Linked DNA regions of Homo sapiens: region 2 is linked to region 1. A link means that fine-mapping ties the variant in region 1 to the expression of a gene that starts in the linked region. Tissue or cell type: lung. Region 1 holds a variant in brackets; the other region holds the start of a gene. All regions are shown on one strand. Distances are from middle to middle.

Region 1 (8,181 bases):
ACAAGTTTCTTTTAGAGTCCTGGTACACTTATAATAACCATAAAATAATAGGACTGTAGCAATCTTTTGTCCTACCTTAGTGACTTGATGTATATACTGGAAACAGTTCTCAGTCTGAGGAAGGTCAGTTGAAGTCCTTACCGTTCAAGTCCAAATTTTAAGGAAAATGAGTCTGTGATGAGTTTCCTCATGTTTCAGCCGTGCGTGGACCAGTCAGCTTCCAGGTGTGACTGGAGCAGGGCTTGTCGTCTTCTTCAGAGTCACTTTGCAGGGGTTGGCGAAGCTGCTCCCATCCATGTACAGCTCCCAGCCTACTGATGTTTAAGGGTGGTCTCGGTGGTTGGGCCTACTAGAATAAACTGAGTCCAGATATGGTTAACTGGGCTCTCTGATACCAGGAGGAAGGTGGCAGGGTTTAGGGTGTGCAAACGTCAATGGTTATGTGGGGATTTTCACAGAGCTAGCTTTGGCATCTAGTTAGTCTAGCATTCATCTAGCATGGTGTCCTTTGGTATTTATTAAAATCACCACAGCATGGGGGGAGTTTATGTTTAGGTTTTGTGTAAGAGTTAGCTTATCTGCTTCTTGTGACAGGGCCGTTGCTACCAGGGCCCTTGGACATGGGGGCCAGCCTTTGGAAACCCCATCTAGTTGTTTTGAGAGATAGGCCACTGGCCTTGGCCAGGGCCCTACAGTCTGGGTTAAAACTCTAACTGCCATTTTTTTTGTTTCTGACACATAGAGCGTAAAGAGTTTTGTCAGGTCAGGTAGCCTCAGGGCTGGGGCCGACATGAGTTTTTCTTTTTAACTCATGAAAAGCTCGTTGCTGTTGGTTGTAATAGATGTAGTTTATCTAATCTACATTTTTATTGACTGTCATCTACCAAAATATTGACTTAAATCCTGTAACTATTTGATTTCAAGCTTTAAATTGATCTGGGACTCCTTGCGGGGCTTCAATTGCATCTAAATAGATGTGAGAGTTGAAAGACCTATAAGGAGCTTTTCTCGCTTTATGATGTCTTCTTCTTATTATTATTTTTTCCTCTTGTTGATGAAATGTCAGGGTGAAAGGGATAGCCAAATGGACTAAAGCACAAGTGCCACTCTAGTTACTCGGCAGAGTCCCCAATAAAGGTCTACCACAATACCACCACACATCCGCTTTGGGATGAACAAGGGCTGACTGATTGATAAGCTCTTGAAAATTCTTAAGCTCACTGCATCCCTTCAGGTCTCCAAGGAATGCTAAGTCTCCTCCCTGCCATGAGAGACACGTAGTGAACTTAGTGTTGGGAGATGGAAGCTGGATGGCCCTCGGGGGCTGACCTGCAGGGACTTTGGGATATAGCAGAGAGAGCTTGGCATGACTTATTACTCCAGGCTATAGAATCCTGGAAAAGAGCTACCATGCAGCCCATGCCTGGCCGACTGGAGGACCACCTTAGTGGAAGGGGGACAATCAGGGCCTCTGGCCTGCCATGTGCACAAGCATGCTAATTGCTTTTGTTTAACCTGCAGATGGAATATTTGATCCATTTCAACCAGGCATTTGCATCTTGGTATGCTGTCTTAATTGCCAAAGTTTGTTTTAAGTCTTTAACTTTTATGATCCTCTAGTAAAATGAATGCTTCCTTTAGCACCAATTTTTATTAGTTTTTAGACAAAAGAAAGCTAAACACTATTTTATATTTACTAATGCTTCCTGTATGACTTTTATACCAGATAAGCTAAATTTTACCTTTATATTAGTGTGTTATTAATGTTAAACTTAATTTTAATAAAACCTTGTAGACATATTTATCCAATTTTTTATGTTTGACCATAAGGTAAGATTTTATAGACTCTTTTTAACCTTTTATAATTTTTGTTAAAGAGCAGGTTGATGCTTTAAGAAAAACCTCTTGCATTTTTACTTTAATGTCCAGTTCACAGAAAAACTGGATGATACCTTTTTAACCTTAGCTAATATGTTTACACACAGAATTTTTTTTATAATTAACGTTTTAAAGCTTGCTTAAACTTTTAAAACAATAATTTTTTTAACCTTTTAATGTAGGTAAAAATCCACGTTTATGCCCCTTTATAATTTTTTTTTTTACCAAAGGTATATTTTACTTTTCTTATACATCTTGCACATGAACTGGTTTTTTTTTTTTAAATAGTACTCAGGAGGCCTCATTACTTTTAAATTATACAATATTTTTTGCATAAAAATTTTTTTTTATAATTTTTTTCTCACGACTTTCCCAGACAATTTTTTAACATGTCTCAATTTTTTGACTGATTAACAAACTTTTTTTTCTTTAAACAACCAGTTAATTTATTTCAGGACAAGAATTTACCATATAACTTTTTTTTAATATAAATTCTGCCTCCCCCCTTTTCTTTCCTTTTTAAAAAAGCGAACTTTCTTTATGTCTTTGGACTAGACTGTCTAAGGCCACAAGATTAGAAGTTACCAAAATACATGTTACACTGTTAACTTTTAGCAAACTTCACTTTTGTTGAAAACCTTGTAAGTTTGAGATTTCAATTATCCTTTGCTATTAATAAGAACTTGTTTAGTCTAAACTCTTAGAATTGGTACAGATGGCCTCTTTTTCTCTTTTCTGGTCGTTCCTTGGCTCTGCCAGCCGCTTATGCTGCTGTTCTCTTAACTACTGTGGTGGGGGAAAGGGGGTCTAAAACCAGCTGTAACTGTCTATGTACAGAAACCGGTCTGGGTGCTTTGGCTTACAGGTTACCTTGTGCCATACCTTTGAAACAAGGGACCTGTCCAGGCTTCCTTCTGGTGGCCAACCTACCTCTAATGCTAGCCAGTCTATTTCACACAAAGTTCTAAGTTTTCCTGGTGTCATACTAACACCGTAATCTCCTTTAAATTCTCTCTTGAAAAAAAATTTTTTTAACATAGGTCCCAGTGGGGTGGGCTTACTTTGCACCTGACCCATGTTTTTTTTTTTTTTTTTCCAGACAAAATACCACGCTCACACCACACATACCACAAGACAAAGAACAGGTAAAGAGGGCACACACACTTTTACCGTTTATACCAAACCAAAATCACGAAATTCAAAATCCGAGTACCAAAAAATTCAAGCCAAGTCAAAACCAAAACCAAAGTATCCAGCAATTCAAGTCAAGTCAAAACCAGAACAAGAGTGCCCATGCAGGCATGCTGTGGGTGATCAGGCCACGTTTCCACTCAGATGGAGTGGGGCAAGTTCCAAAGACTAGTCTTACCAAGTCAAGCCAAGTCAAAACCAGAACAAAAGTGCCAATACAGGCACACCGTGGGTGATCAGGCCACGCTTCCACTCACGTGGAGTGGGGCAAGTTCCAAAGACTAGTCTTACCAAGTCAAGCCAAGTCAAAACCAGAACAAAGATGTCAATACAGGCACACCGTGGGTGATCAGGCCATGCTTCCACTCACATGGAGTGGGGCAAGTTCCAAA[A/G]ACTAGTCTTGACAAGCTTCAGATGTCTGGACTTCAAGTGCCAGTTCCTTCCCGGTGTTCAGCCAGTGTTAATCCTTCTCGGGAGCCTGCTATGCGCTGCTCTGGCAAGGCATTCCACCGGGGCCATTTCCTACCCGGGAGCGCTCTTTGGATTGCGTCAGTCAGGCTGGCCGGAGTCCTCTGCAGGGACGCTCCACAGGGCTTGTCAGTCACCTCGCTTCCTGGTCAGGGAACCAAGGACTGTAGCAGGACAAGCCACAGACAAAACCTCTCAGACACGGAGCTGTAGAAGAAAGGGCTTTATTCAGCTGGGAGCATTGGCAAGCTACTGCCTTAAAATCCGAGCTCCCCGAGTGCACAATTTCTGTCGCTTTTAAGAGCTCACAACACTAAAATTTCACATGAAAGGGTCGTGATTGATTTGAGCAAGCAAGGGGTACGTGACAGGGGCTGCATGCACCGATGGTCAGGGAGAAACAGAACAGGGCAGGGAGTTTCACAATGTTCTTCTATAGAATGTCTGGAATCTATGAATAACATCGGTTTCTAAGTCATGAGTTGATTTTTAACTACTAGGTTTAGGCCAGGCAGGCCCAGGTCCAGTTTTGGGCCTGGCGCTGGGCTGCCTGTCTTTGATTTCACTTCCTTTTTTTTTTAAAAAAAAAAAAAAAAACAGGTACTGAGTATAAAACAATATGAGAGGGTCTCTCTCTTCCCTCGCTTTAACTTTCGGAGGGCTGAAATTCTTTCTAGCCTTGGTTAATACAGCAATTCATTCCATTCTAGCTATTGTTATTTCTCTTACTATAATTTTACTATTAGTACTTACGCTATTCTATTATTTTCTTAATTTTCCACTTAATTAGGATAACAAACCGAGGCCGGGCTCCCATCCTCCTCAAGCACACGAGGGGGGCCTGGCCCAGCAGGGAGCTTCGCCTGGTTTCTGAGGGAATTCCCGGCGGGCCTTTCCAAAACATGCCCGTTCCCTTCCGCTAACTTCAGGGGCCAAGAATTGAACTTTCACCCTCCTCAAGCCGGTGGCGCTGCCTCGCTGGCGTTCCCAGCGCGCAGCCAACCGGATGCCAGCCGGCGGCATTACCACTGCCAGCATGGGGCGCCCGCGGACCTCCGACTGAGGCAGCTGCCGGGAGCCGGAAGTGTCCCGGGCGCCGGGACTGCGAGGGGGCCGGGAGTTCCCCAAGACCGGAAGTGTCCCGAGGCCGGGAGCCCGCGGGACCCCGGAGCGCGCGGGGCCGGAAGAGGCGGGCGGCCAGTGGAGGTCCGCAGAGTTTGGGCGCCAGGCGAGACGGCAGGGCTTAAAGTTCCGGGTGAGGCGTGGGTCCCACAACCGCTTGGAATTTGCCTCCCGGCTCCGCTCTGGAAGCTAAGAAGGGGCACGAGAGCCGGAGACGGGAACCTGAGAGCAGGGAAGCCAGTAGCCGGCCGGAGGAGCGCGCGGCCGCTCCAGTCGGAAGGAGCCGTTGCAGCCCTGCCCGGCGTGTGGCGGGGTCAGCGAGGCCCCTGCGGTGCTTCGCCCGCGCCTTCCGCTCCGCACTCACCCGCCCTCTGGGCCTCCCACAGGTCGGCGCCGCCAGCGGCGGGTACCGGCCCGCAGAGGGAGGGCGGGCTGTGAACTGGCAGCACATCGCGTTCCCGCGGGGCCCCCATTCTGCCCAGGCAGGGAGCGGCTGGGATGGGACTGAGGTCGGTCCGCGAGCGCGGTGCCCCAGAGACCCGGCTTCTGGAAGTTGCCGCGGCCTGCTCTTGGGGCCCAGAAGTAGGGCGGGGAGGCGCGGGGTCTGGAGTCTGCAGGACCTGGCTGCGAATCCAACCAGCTGATTTCAAACTTTTCTGTGATCTTCTGCAAGTTAACTAAGTCTCAGTTCCTCGTTTGCGAAATGTACTTAATAGGCACCCCAGGGTGAACTAAATTTGTCCGCACAGACTGCAGCATTGCGCTTGGGAGGCGCCTTAGGGGGTAGGAGTCACTAATATCACTGAGTTTTGACAGAAATGAAGGTGCATTGGCAAAGGTGTGCCCCATGGCCGGGCAGGTTAGGAGGAGGGCCTGGTAATATTTTTTCTTAAATTGTAAACAGCCATCTGGATGAGCAATGCATTATCAAATTATGATTCAGAGAGGACTATCGCTGACTACTCTTTTTTTTGGGCAAACCTCCGCTTCAGGAGCTTCTGGCTTGATTCCTAAGTGGAAGGTAGAGACCTAGGCCCTCTGAGTCACAACTCCATCTCTCTGGGTGAGGACTGAGCTCCAGGACTGCTGAGTGGAGGCAGAACAATTGGGATAGGGAAAAGAGAGGCCAAACTAGATCAGAGGCTGGCGTGGGCTTCAGAATCTACAGACTGGCACAGTTAATGCCTCCGGGCCCCTATTGCTGCTTCAAGTTTGACCAATCAGAAGTATCTTTAGCTTAAGGGCGGCGTGTTGGCCAATGAGACTTTATTGTGAAATAAAATGCCCTCAGTTTCATTTAACTGAGCCACCATAGAAGAGTAGAGAAATCGAGTTGGCCAGATGAGGGAGAGGCCATTAAGAGGTATTTTAGGGATTGAATGGGCTGGGCACCCAGAGGACAGTGGCATTTGGGGTGGTAATGAGAAGGAACATTAGGGGCCTCCGCCTCCTTCCGTTCCTCCTGTGCTGAGTCAGTCAGCACAGAGGCTGCAGGAGGTATCTCTGGTTGGCTTTGGCTGCCTGTAGGGGGCACCAGCTTTGGGGAGGTCAGAGGGCTCTCTCCTGAGCTGCTGTCCTGCCCACAATCACACCTGCCTGATGCCTGTGAATGGCCGTCTGAGTCTCTTGGGCCTTGGTCACTTCTGGCCTGCCCTGCACCGACCAGTAACTGTGCCTGATGACTGGAGGTATGGGAATTCACCGGACTTTATTGTTCTTTGTAGGAATCAAAGATCAACTCCCACTGAGGACAAATGGACCTGTAATTCCGGGTGTGACGAGAGAACGAGATTTACCTTCCTGAATTAAAAAACAGGTCATTAAGCTTGGGCCCTGACTCTTCTTTGTGAGAAGGTACAGAGATGGAAACCTTACAATCCGAGACTAAAACGAGGGTCCTTCCCTCATGGCTGACAGCCCAGGTGGCTACAAAGAATGTGGCACCAATGAAGGCCCCCAAGAGGATGAGAATGGCAGCAGTGCCAGTGGCAGCAGCAAGGTGCGACAGCTCTGGTCAGAAGACTCCTGCGAATCTGGCAAGTGGAGCAGGGGCCTCCATGACCTGGGCCAGGTCTTCCAGCCTAGGCAGAACAGCAAGATGGGCGGGTGTTTCAGTCTGATCATCTCTTGAGCTTTTAGAAGGTGGAGGGGCTGTGGGCGGGAGGCAAAGCGGGTTAACCCTCGAGGACAGGCACCCACTTCTGCCTCTGCACTGGTGAGTGCCCTGCCCTCAGCACACACAGAGTGGGTTCTCCATGTCAGCCAGTCTCTGATGCCAGTTGTCCAGAATGCCAGTCTCTTCCTTTACAACAAACATGGTAACATCAGATGGGCAAGATCAGTGGAAGGGTCTGTTCTGAGTGGTGCCTGCCCCTGTGGACAGACCTTTAGGGATGGACAGATGAGCAGCAGCTGCAGGGCCAGCAAGAGCTAAGGAGCTGGGGAGTGAGTTAGTTGAATGACGGTAATTGCCGGGGGGGGGCGGGGGGGGGGTGGTGAGTCTCCAGGCTGCACTGTGAAGTGGGCGGGGCCCCAGCACTCGGTGTTTCCCTCTCTGGCTCCTCCTCCTCTAAGGTTTCCTGACTGACAGCCTTCCCTTGTGACTGCTGCCGTCTTTCCCTAAGTCTGGTCCTGCTTTCAGGTTCCTCTCAGTACAGCCTCAGCCCGAGGTTCCCTTCCTCTTGCATCCATGTGTGTGTTTCAGAGGCGGCCATCCTTCCCTACTTCCAGATCCTTGTAGGGCAGTTGGTGGAGGGTGGGAGGCACCCCGGTGTTGCCTCCATGAAGCCCTGTGCCAGTCACTGGGCTGCAAGGCTGAGGAAATTGTGTCCGTGTCAGAAAGCTCCTCAGCTCAGAGGTGCTGGTACCTCCTGCGTGGTAGGAAGGCAGGGGGAAGAGGCCCTGCTTCTCCTGTTCTCTTTGCCCTTATGAGACTTGAGAGTCTGTGTCATCTGTGCCTTGCATGTCTTTTTTTCAGACTCCCTGCGACAAGGACTGTGTACTGCATGAATGAGGCTGAGATAGTTGATGTTGCTCTGGGAATCCTGATTGAGGTAAAGTCAGACAAGCCTCTTACTCATGACCAGAAACTCTGCATGGGCAGAGGCTAGACCCTTGGTCACCGTCAGTAAGAGAGACGCCCTCTGCCGTAGGCTACCTCTTCTTCCTCCTGCCACTTCCCTTGCTCTTATCTCGGCCATGCTGCCCAGGCCTCTCCCCATGTGGGTGTGCGCTCGTGGGGTGTCTTTGAGGCTAGAAGCCTGGGAGGGCATGCGTGTGTTAGGGAGGGCGTGTGTGTGTTAGGGAGAGCGTGACTGTGCACTGGTGTGTATGTGGATGGGACATGAAGCGTTTACCTGTTTGTGTTCTTGGAAAGGTTCCCAGTTGGGTAGATGACTTCTTAGCCATTGCCCCTCTCCTGAGCAGAGGATGCTGAGCTTCCTAGCTTCCTGCAGTAATAATTGCAGTGCCTCAGAGTTGCACAGCATTCTACAGTTTACCAGGTGCCTTGAAAGCATGCGT
Region 2 (8,181 bases), 23 kb after region 1:
TGGTTCTGAGCATGGACCTTGAAGCTATGGCTTCTGGGTTCAAGACTCTGCTCTTCCATTCACCAGCTGTGTGACCTTAGTTACTTAACATCCTTCTGCCTAGATTTTTCATCTGTAAAATGGCTTTAATTATATAACTTATTTTGTAGATGTTATGGAAATTAAATGAAGTAATTTGTGCATGGCATTTAGAACATGACCTGGTAAGTATTATTTAAATTATTACTACGATAGAGAGAAAACTGAGGCTCAGAGAAGTTAAGCCCAGGCTACCAGCCTGACAGTGGTGAGATTCTAGGAAGACAAATAGTGCCAGGGTTCATTCCCAGAGATGAACTCTAGGAAGCTGGTCTCATTTATGTTTGGTTGTGATGACTCCAGGATGCAGCTGCCTGTTGAGAGGTAGCACAGTGTGGTGGTAAGGAGCATGGGTTTTAGAGCCAGATGACCTGGGAGCATGTCGTCGTTCTGTCACTCACTAGTCATATGACCTTGGGCAAGTTACATAGCCAGCCTGAGCCTCACATCCTCATCTGTAATGCATCAGTTGTCACGTTCCTCATGGGCTGTTGTGAGACTGAAGGAAGTTCACTCACATATAGAGGGCTTGGGGCCTGACACAAACTGGGTCAATGTGTCTGCTCTGGTCATGATGCTGAAGCAATAGCTCAGTGGGAGAAACGGGAATTGACGGAGAGTCAGGTAGACATGGTTGGGTGTGTCGCCTGAATGGAGAGAGGAGAACTGGGAAGAAAATGTTAGCAGAATAAAGCCGGGGCAACAGAGCTTGCCAGGGCATAGAACAAGGGCGCAGGTTTACTTGTCAGAGGCCACCAGTCCTGGCTAAAATATTTCTGGTGGAACACATTGAAGATCAGTGTGCTCATGGTTTAGGTGTGGCTGTCACAAAAATAAAAAGGGAAGAAGAAAGGGAAATGTGTCATATTTCCTTTGGTAGAAACATGAGTCCAGGTTCTAATTCTTTTCAAAACAGGGCTACTGCAGTGTTTTTCAACAGTGTGTAGGTGGTGGCAGCTCCTGGATTTCACCAGTGTTTTCTGTGGACAGCCATCCCAACCACCAAGTTTTTAATGAATGCTGTGATGTTTTGATTTACTTAATTATTCCATGTAAATAAAACAGCTTTATCAGACAAAATAGGACTATACCATGAGATTATAACATAAAGTCAGAAGCATGAGTCCAGGCACCCAGATGACAAGCCATTGAGATAGCTGTTTAAATGGTTCCATTAATATTAACTTGCTATTTGTGCAATTGTTTTGTTGACTATTAGCTCTCACTAGCAGATAATCCAAGTGGGAACAAAGATTACAAAAAGTTTAGAGGGAGAAGAAAATCCTTAAAAATGAGAAAATGTCTACAAATGAGCCATCTTAATTTGTTTGTTTGTTTGAGACAGTCTTGCTCTGTCACCCAGGGTGGAATGCAGTGGCACCATCTTGGCTCACTGCAATCTCTGCCTCCCGGGTTCAAGAAATTCACCTGCCTCAGCCTCCTGCCACCACGTCCAGCTAATCTCATTTGGTTTCTGTTGGCAGGACTCCACGGTCCAGTTTGTGGGCGGCCAAGATTCACAAGATTCAGAGTTTGAGAATCAGTAGTACCAGAAACTGGTGACTGCCTTTGGCTGTCAATGGTTAGTTTTCCCGCACCAGCCCTCTCTTCCGCAATTACAAAGGCAATTTGCCACCCACTTCGACTCGTGGGGTCAGCATTTCATCTTGTAACTCTGTTAGTGACACATTTTGGATGACTCCCTGAATCAGAGGCCCTGGGGAATCAGTGCCACACAGGACAAACCAGGTGCCTGCTCTCATTGAGCTTGTACTCTAGTTGGGAAGGCAAACACCAAATGTATTTTTTAAAAGGTAATTATAATTTTTGAAAAGGTTTGGGAAAGAAATAAACAGGGTGAGTGAGAGAGAGAAACTGGCAGGAGGAAGTGATGACTAGATTATAGGGTCAGGGAAAGCCTCTCTTCAGAAGAGATATTTGTTTTGAGTCCTGAAAGGGTTCTTCATTAACTAATACTGAAGCAATTGATCAGCTAACTAGAAAAGAGAAACAAAACTATTTTAGGTCCTCATCTCACTCCACATACCCAAATAAATTTCACATGGATCCAAGAGTGAAAGGTAAAACCAGATAAAAAAATCAATGATCTGGAAAAAAGGATATATTTGATTTATGAGTGAAAAATAAAATTTGGAACTTAAGAGCAAATGGAAACTACAAATAAAGAATTGCACAGGTTTAACTATTCTAAAATAAAGATTTCTATTCACCAAAAACAACATAAATATAATTAAAAGTCAATGAGCATGGAAAATATCTACCACAACTATGAAATGATTAATGTACTTAATGTTTAAAATGTTTACGCAAACTGTCAAAAAACATTACACCTCATTAAAAATGGACAAATATGAAGAGATAATTCACAAAGAATGCAAAGTAGTTAACTAACATGAAAAAAAATTCTGTAACTTTTCTAATGTAATTAAAGATACGCCAAGTAAAAAACCAGAGTTTCCCTATCAACACTGTAGGTAAAAACACTTGATGATACCAAAAATATGGTTAAACTGGCATTCTCACACAATGATGGTGGATGTGAACATTTGTACAAACTTTCAGGGAGGCAGATTGGCAATAAACATTAAAAACCCTAAAAATAGTCATATCTCTTTGGCCCACTTTTATAAATCTATCCTAAGACAGCAATCAGAAATCCAGTCAATAATTTATACATAGGAATGTTCAGCACAGCATTACTTTTGGCACAAAATGGGAAGCAGCTTGAAAGTCCAATATCAGAAGTAAACTATGATGTATCAAGGATAAAATACTATGCATCTTTTAGAAAAAGCAGGTATAAAATCACTCTACATAGTGTGACTACATCCATATAAAGAGGCATAGGAGAAAGAGACTAAAGAAGTATTTGAAAATGTTAATGTTAGCTGTGGTAGCTCTGGGTGGTGACATTACAGGCAATTGTTCTCTATTTGCAGTAAAATATTTTTAGAATTATGTGCTACATTTATGAAAAAAAAAGAAATTTATAAAACAGGCATTCAAAACAGCCTTAGTAATTAGATAAAGCAGGGACTAAGCTGGAAAGAAAGTTGAGAAAGGGGAATATGTGCAAGATTGAAAAAATATCTCATGGACTGAGTCTCAGACCTGAGATTTTGGGGAATGGGGTATGGTAAGTGGATACTGAAAAATGCTCTTCAGTTATCATGAGGGAAGAAGGAAATATGTGTCTTTTCCCTCTTTCAAAGGAGCCTTTGATTTTATAGGCGAAGAAGCATAGTGGAAGTTATTAGTGAAACTAAGCCCACATTAAAAAAAATCTCTTAAAATATGCATCAAGAGAACTAAAATACCACCATGGATTTCCACTGGGGCATGAGGAGCAATCTGGTCTAATGACTAACATAAGATCTAAACATCTCTTAGGTCCCATTCTTTGAGGCAAGAACACAAGTTTTTCTGTTGATATTAATCTTCAGTGTGTATTTTAAAGTTTTATGATGTGTTCGTAACTACCATTGAATAGTGGTTTAGTTAGTGTTGGTCGGTGACCTGCTTTTGTTTACCTATTTCTGATGAACAGTGTATTGCACAAGCCACAGCCATGTCCTTGTACACACTGCGTGCAAGACTCTGCTGTGTGCAGTCAGCCCTGCATCGTTTCTAACCAGTTATACTGGCCTTACTTTCATCATCTTTGAGGCCAGAGCTACACATGTTGATGCCGAAGAGTGGAAGGAAGGAGAGCAGAGAGTAAAGGGGGTAGATTATGTAGATTATACAGACATGAGCGAGGGAGGGTCACAGATACTGAACAACCAGTGAGTTCCCCTATGTGGATTGCCAGAACATGAAATATCTGAGAAGAAAACAAAATTGTCTTACAAGGTAGTAGACGTCTGGGTAAGCTGTGATGCTTGCAGGATCGGTACTTACAGAAAGGAGGTGCAGAGACCACAGGAACACTCATGAAAAGGAGAAGCAGGAAATCAGGGTTGGTTGTTTGAATCTTCCTTCTCGCTGGCTTTCTAATGTCAGACTCCAGAAAGGAGGAGTGGAAGGGAAATGGCAGGCAGATGCAGTCCTGAGCTGGTGCCCCCTTGCCTTCGCAGTCGTGCCTAGTAAACAGCTCTCTGAACTTTGGTACATTTGTTCTGACTGATGTCACTATCAGCTGATTTCACTTTCGTTTCCTAACTTGCCAGTGGCCCATGACTTTTCAGAAATGAGGTATGTAAACAACTTTTTATTGTCCATTATGACATACTCTTTACCTACACTGTAGCCGGCAAACCAACTGATTTAAAGAGCCAGGTAAATGTCTTGATTATATCACACAATAATTCCAGAAAGGGAAGGAGCCAAAGAACTCTCGAAGCTCCCAGTGATTTAAACTGCAAGATAAACACAACCCGGAATTTTATTCAGAAGAAACCCATCAGGATCATCTGGTCCAAGCTCCCAGCCAGTGTGGCAGTCAGGACCCAGGTCACCTCCTACTCATTTCCTTGGGAAGCAGCTATGCCGTCTGTCCCCCAACCCCTTTTAGAGATCAATTTTGTAATGATGACTGGGCTTCTCTGGACACAAAACTTTGTGTCCTGAGCATTCTCACTGCAGTGTTTAGGCCCATGTTGGAGCAGCTGGAACATCTATTTTATTTCAAAATAAGAGCCGAACAAAGCTTTTATTTTTGTAAGCATTGGGGCTCCTGGCCAGAGTTTAAAAATTGCTTCCGTTGCTCACATGACCAACTGGAAATTTCAACTGTGGGTTAAACTTGGTTACATGAGACTGCTACCTAGTGCTATTGCTGAATCCTTCAGCGGTTCTCTTCTGCTTCCTTGCCCTTCCTCCAAAGGAGGAGTTATTTGAACTGCTACATTGCCCTCCCCCTGCCCCTAGTTCTTTTAAACGCAAACTCTAGAAAGAGGTGATGGGATCCAGGAGGAAGGAAGAACAGAGGCTTTGAGATCAGAGAGTTCTGCTACATACTAGCAAATTATTTAATCTCTTTGAGCATCAATTTCTTATCTGTAAAATGGAAACAGTACCTACTTTGCATGGTTGCTCTGGGGACTGGAGATAATATAAGTGCTTAGTACAATACTGGGACCATAGTAATGGTAGCTATTATTATGAAAAGTGGAATTTCTGTATATTTAGTCTAGCATCCATATTAATGCCTTTAAGACAGAAAATTAACTTTTAGATACTAATATACAGTAGTTACTCTGAAAACTCAATACTGGTGAGTGAAGTGATATAGAAGAGATAGAAACATATTTATATTTATGAAATTTATTCAAGGTTATCATGTACCTAGTTTTCAAAGAGTCAGTTTTTCAAAACTTACGAAAATCGGCAGTCCCACACTCTCCCTTTCTTCCTCTTCAGAGGCAAGCACTTTCACCTGTGCTCATTCTTTAGGCATTTACCTCAGTTCTCTAAATAACATGCTTGGATTGGTACTTCTTGATTTTTCAGTTTCAGGCATAATCTACTGACTCCCAACCATAAAAGGTGAAGATTTAGCTTTCTTCTTCCCCACTGCATGTTCCAGAAGTATGCTTCCTCTCTTCCTCCTCTATCCAAATTGGTTATAGTTTTGTTTAAATCAATATTCAGTGTTTACAATATTGGAATATGCACAGGTATACTTTATTTTATTGTGCATCTCTCTTTGTGGATCCTGCATCTTTTACAAATTGAGGATTTGTGGCATTTTTGCATCGAGCAAGTCTATTGGCACCATTTTTTCAATAGCCTTTGCTCACTTCATGTCTCTGTGTCACATTTTGGTAACTTTTGCAACATTTCAAGCTTTTTCATTATTATTATGTTGGTTATGGTGATCTTTGATGTTACTATTGTGATTGTTTTGGGGTGCCATGAACCGCACCCATATGACGGTGAACTTAATTGATAATTCAGTTCTGACCGCTCCACCAACTCTGTGTTGGTGTTCTGACCGTGTGTTCTGACCACTCCACCAACTGGACGTTCCTCCATTTCTCTCTCACGTTAGGTCTCCCTATTCCTGAGACACAATAATACTGAAATTAGGCCAATTAATGTCCCTACAATGGCCTGTAAGTGTTTAAGTGAAAGGAAGTGTCACATGTCTTTCATTTAAAATTGGAAACTAGAAATGATTAAGCTTAGTGAGGAAGGCATTGTGAAAGCAAAGATAAGCCAAATGTTAGGCCTTATGTTGTGAAGGCAAAGGTTCAGATGATTGTTAGCATTATTTAGCAACAAAGTATTTCTAAATTAAGGTATGTCCGTTAGGTTTTTTTAGACATAACAGTATCACACACTAAATAGGCTACCTTATAGTATAAACATGACTTTTATATGCACTGGGAAACCAGAAATTCGTGTGATTTGCTTTACTGTAATACTTGCTTTATTGCAGTGGTCAGGAACAGAACCTGCAACATATCTCCGAGGTGTGCCTGTAAATACCATTTACAGCAGCTGAGCCATGTAGAAAATTAAGATTACTTTTCCTATCCTGCATAACTTTTGATCTTCTCTGAAGATAATTGCTTTTTTTAAAAAGTTTGTTTGCTTGCTTGGTTTTCTATTGCTTAACACTAATCCAACCCTCAAATCTTTATCAAATCTTCTATGAATAAATTTCTATGCATCAAGTATTCTATATCTTCCTGAGAAAGGCTTTTCAGACCCTTCCAACCTGCCCCAGTCTGGGGCTTGACACCACACACAGCTGTTGTCCTGGCTTCTCACATCACCACCATGCTGGGGATTCCCTTTACTTCTGTCCTAGGTTGGATCTCCTGCTTCCTGCATCAAAGGCATTTCTCTTTCTCCATTTATTCAGTTCTGGGAGAGTAAATCTCCAGTAACTTCCTGAGAAATGGGTACACTGAAGAGAATTTTTTGAGAACTTACAAAACTGAAAATATCTTCATTCTAACTTGATCTATTCAAATGTGATCAAATTTAGACTGAATATAAAATTTTAGGTTAAAAATAATTTTCATTTATAATTTTGAAGGCTTTGTCCCATTATGTCTGGCTTTCTTGTTTTGTTGAGAAGTTTAAATTTGTTCTGCTTCCTGGCTTCCAAAATGGTCTCCTCTTGTCATCCTTTCAGCTTTATGCCTTAAAAAATAAATTATTTTGGTGGTTTTGAGAGGGAGCAAAATTGAATGTGTATCCAGTTTGCCATTTTTAACTGGAGGTCTAAAATATTTCTTTGTTCCTCTTCTTTTTTTTTTTTTTTTTTTTTTTTTTTTTTTACTCTTTTGAGACAGGGTCTCTCTGTCACCTAGGCTGGAGTGCAGTGGCACGATCACAGCTTATTGCAGCCTTGACCTCTTGTGCTCAGGTGATCCTCCCACCTCAGCCTCCTAAGTAGCTAGGACTACAGGTGCGTGCCACTATGCCTGGCTAATTTTTATATTATTATTATTATTAATTTTTTGGTACAGATAGGGTTTTGCCATGTTGCCCAGGCTGGTCTAACACTCCTGGGCTCAAGGGATTCACCTGCCTTGGCCTCCCAGAATGCTGGGATTACAGGCATGAGCCACTGTGCCTGGCCTCTTTCTTATTCTTTATCTTCCCTTTTTCTTTTTTTTGTTTTTACTCCAAGAGGGTTATTTCTTACTGTCTCTTTCACTGGTTCTCTGGCAACCTAGCTGGCCTATGGTTGAGCTTGTTGCTTTTATCAAGCTACTCATTTCCTCTTAATTGCTTACTGTCAAAATCTCCATTGTTTTTGGCAGTACTCTTAACCTTGAACTTCCCCACACTCTGTTCCAAACAAGTCAGTTTACTTGAGGACAGCTTCAGAGCTCTCTGTTCTTAAGGCATGCCTCTCCTCTGGGCAACATATCTGAGCCACTGCTCTGGACCTGGGGTTGGTGACAGTGGCTTGCATCTTCTAGAGTGACCCATCTACTTTTTGAGCATGGTCCTGAGTGGCGTAGTAGCCTCTGGTCTTTTCAACTTCAGCTTGACTCTCCTGGCATGGAAACTCCACACTATGAAGTAGCTGGAGAAAAGGTGACCAGGAATCCAGTATTCCCAGCCCACTGAACCTTTGCCTTATGGTTGAGTGGAGGAAGGGAGTCCCTGACCTCTTGG

What was found. PIP is the estimated chance that this variant, and not a neighbour inherited with it, causes the effect.
Region 2: TMEM140 starts here. The variant in region 1 is fine-mapped to the expression of TMEM140 in lung (TOPMed, PIP above 0.99).

Annotation. Positions count from the first base shown.
Region 1 is chr7:135,167,263-135,175,443 of GRCh38, reverse strand. CYREN (cell cycle regulator of NHEJ) reads left to right here and starts at 4,737. Exons shown (of 4, transcript NM_024033.4): 1 at 4,737-4,792; 2 at 6,384-6,658; 3 at 7,637-7,712. The coding sequence starts at 6,522. RefSeq lists enhancers at 3,997-4,216, 6,297-6,426 and a silencer at 4,597-5,206. The variant A/G (reference allele first, on the strand shown) is at 3,462.
Region 2 is chr7:135,144,089-135,152,269 of GRCh38, reverse strand. It overlaps TMEM140 (transmembrane protein 140), which reads right to left and starts at 4,198. Exons shown (of 2, transcript NM_018295.5): 1 at 4,000-4,198. It also overlaps a transcript of CYREN not described here. RefSeq lists enhancers at 507-656, 677-886, 3,920-4,419.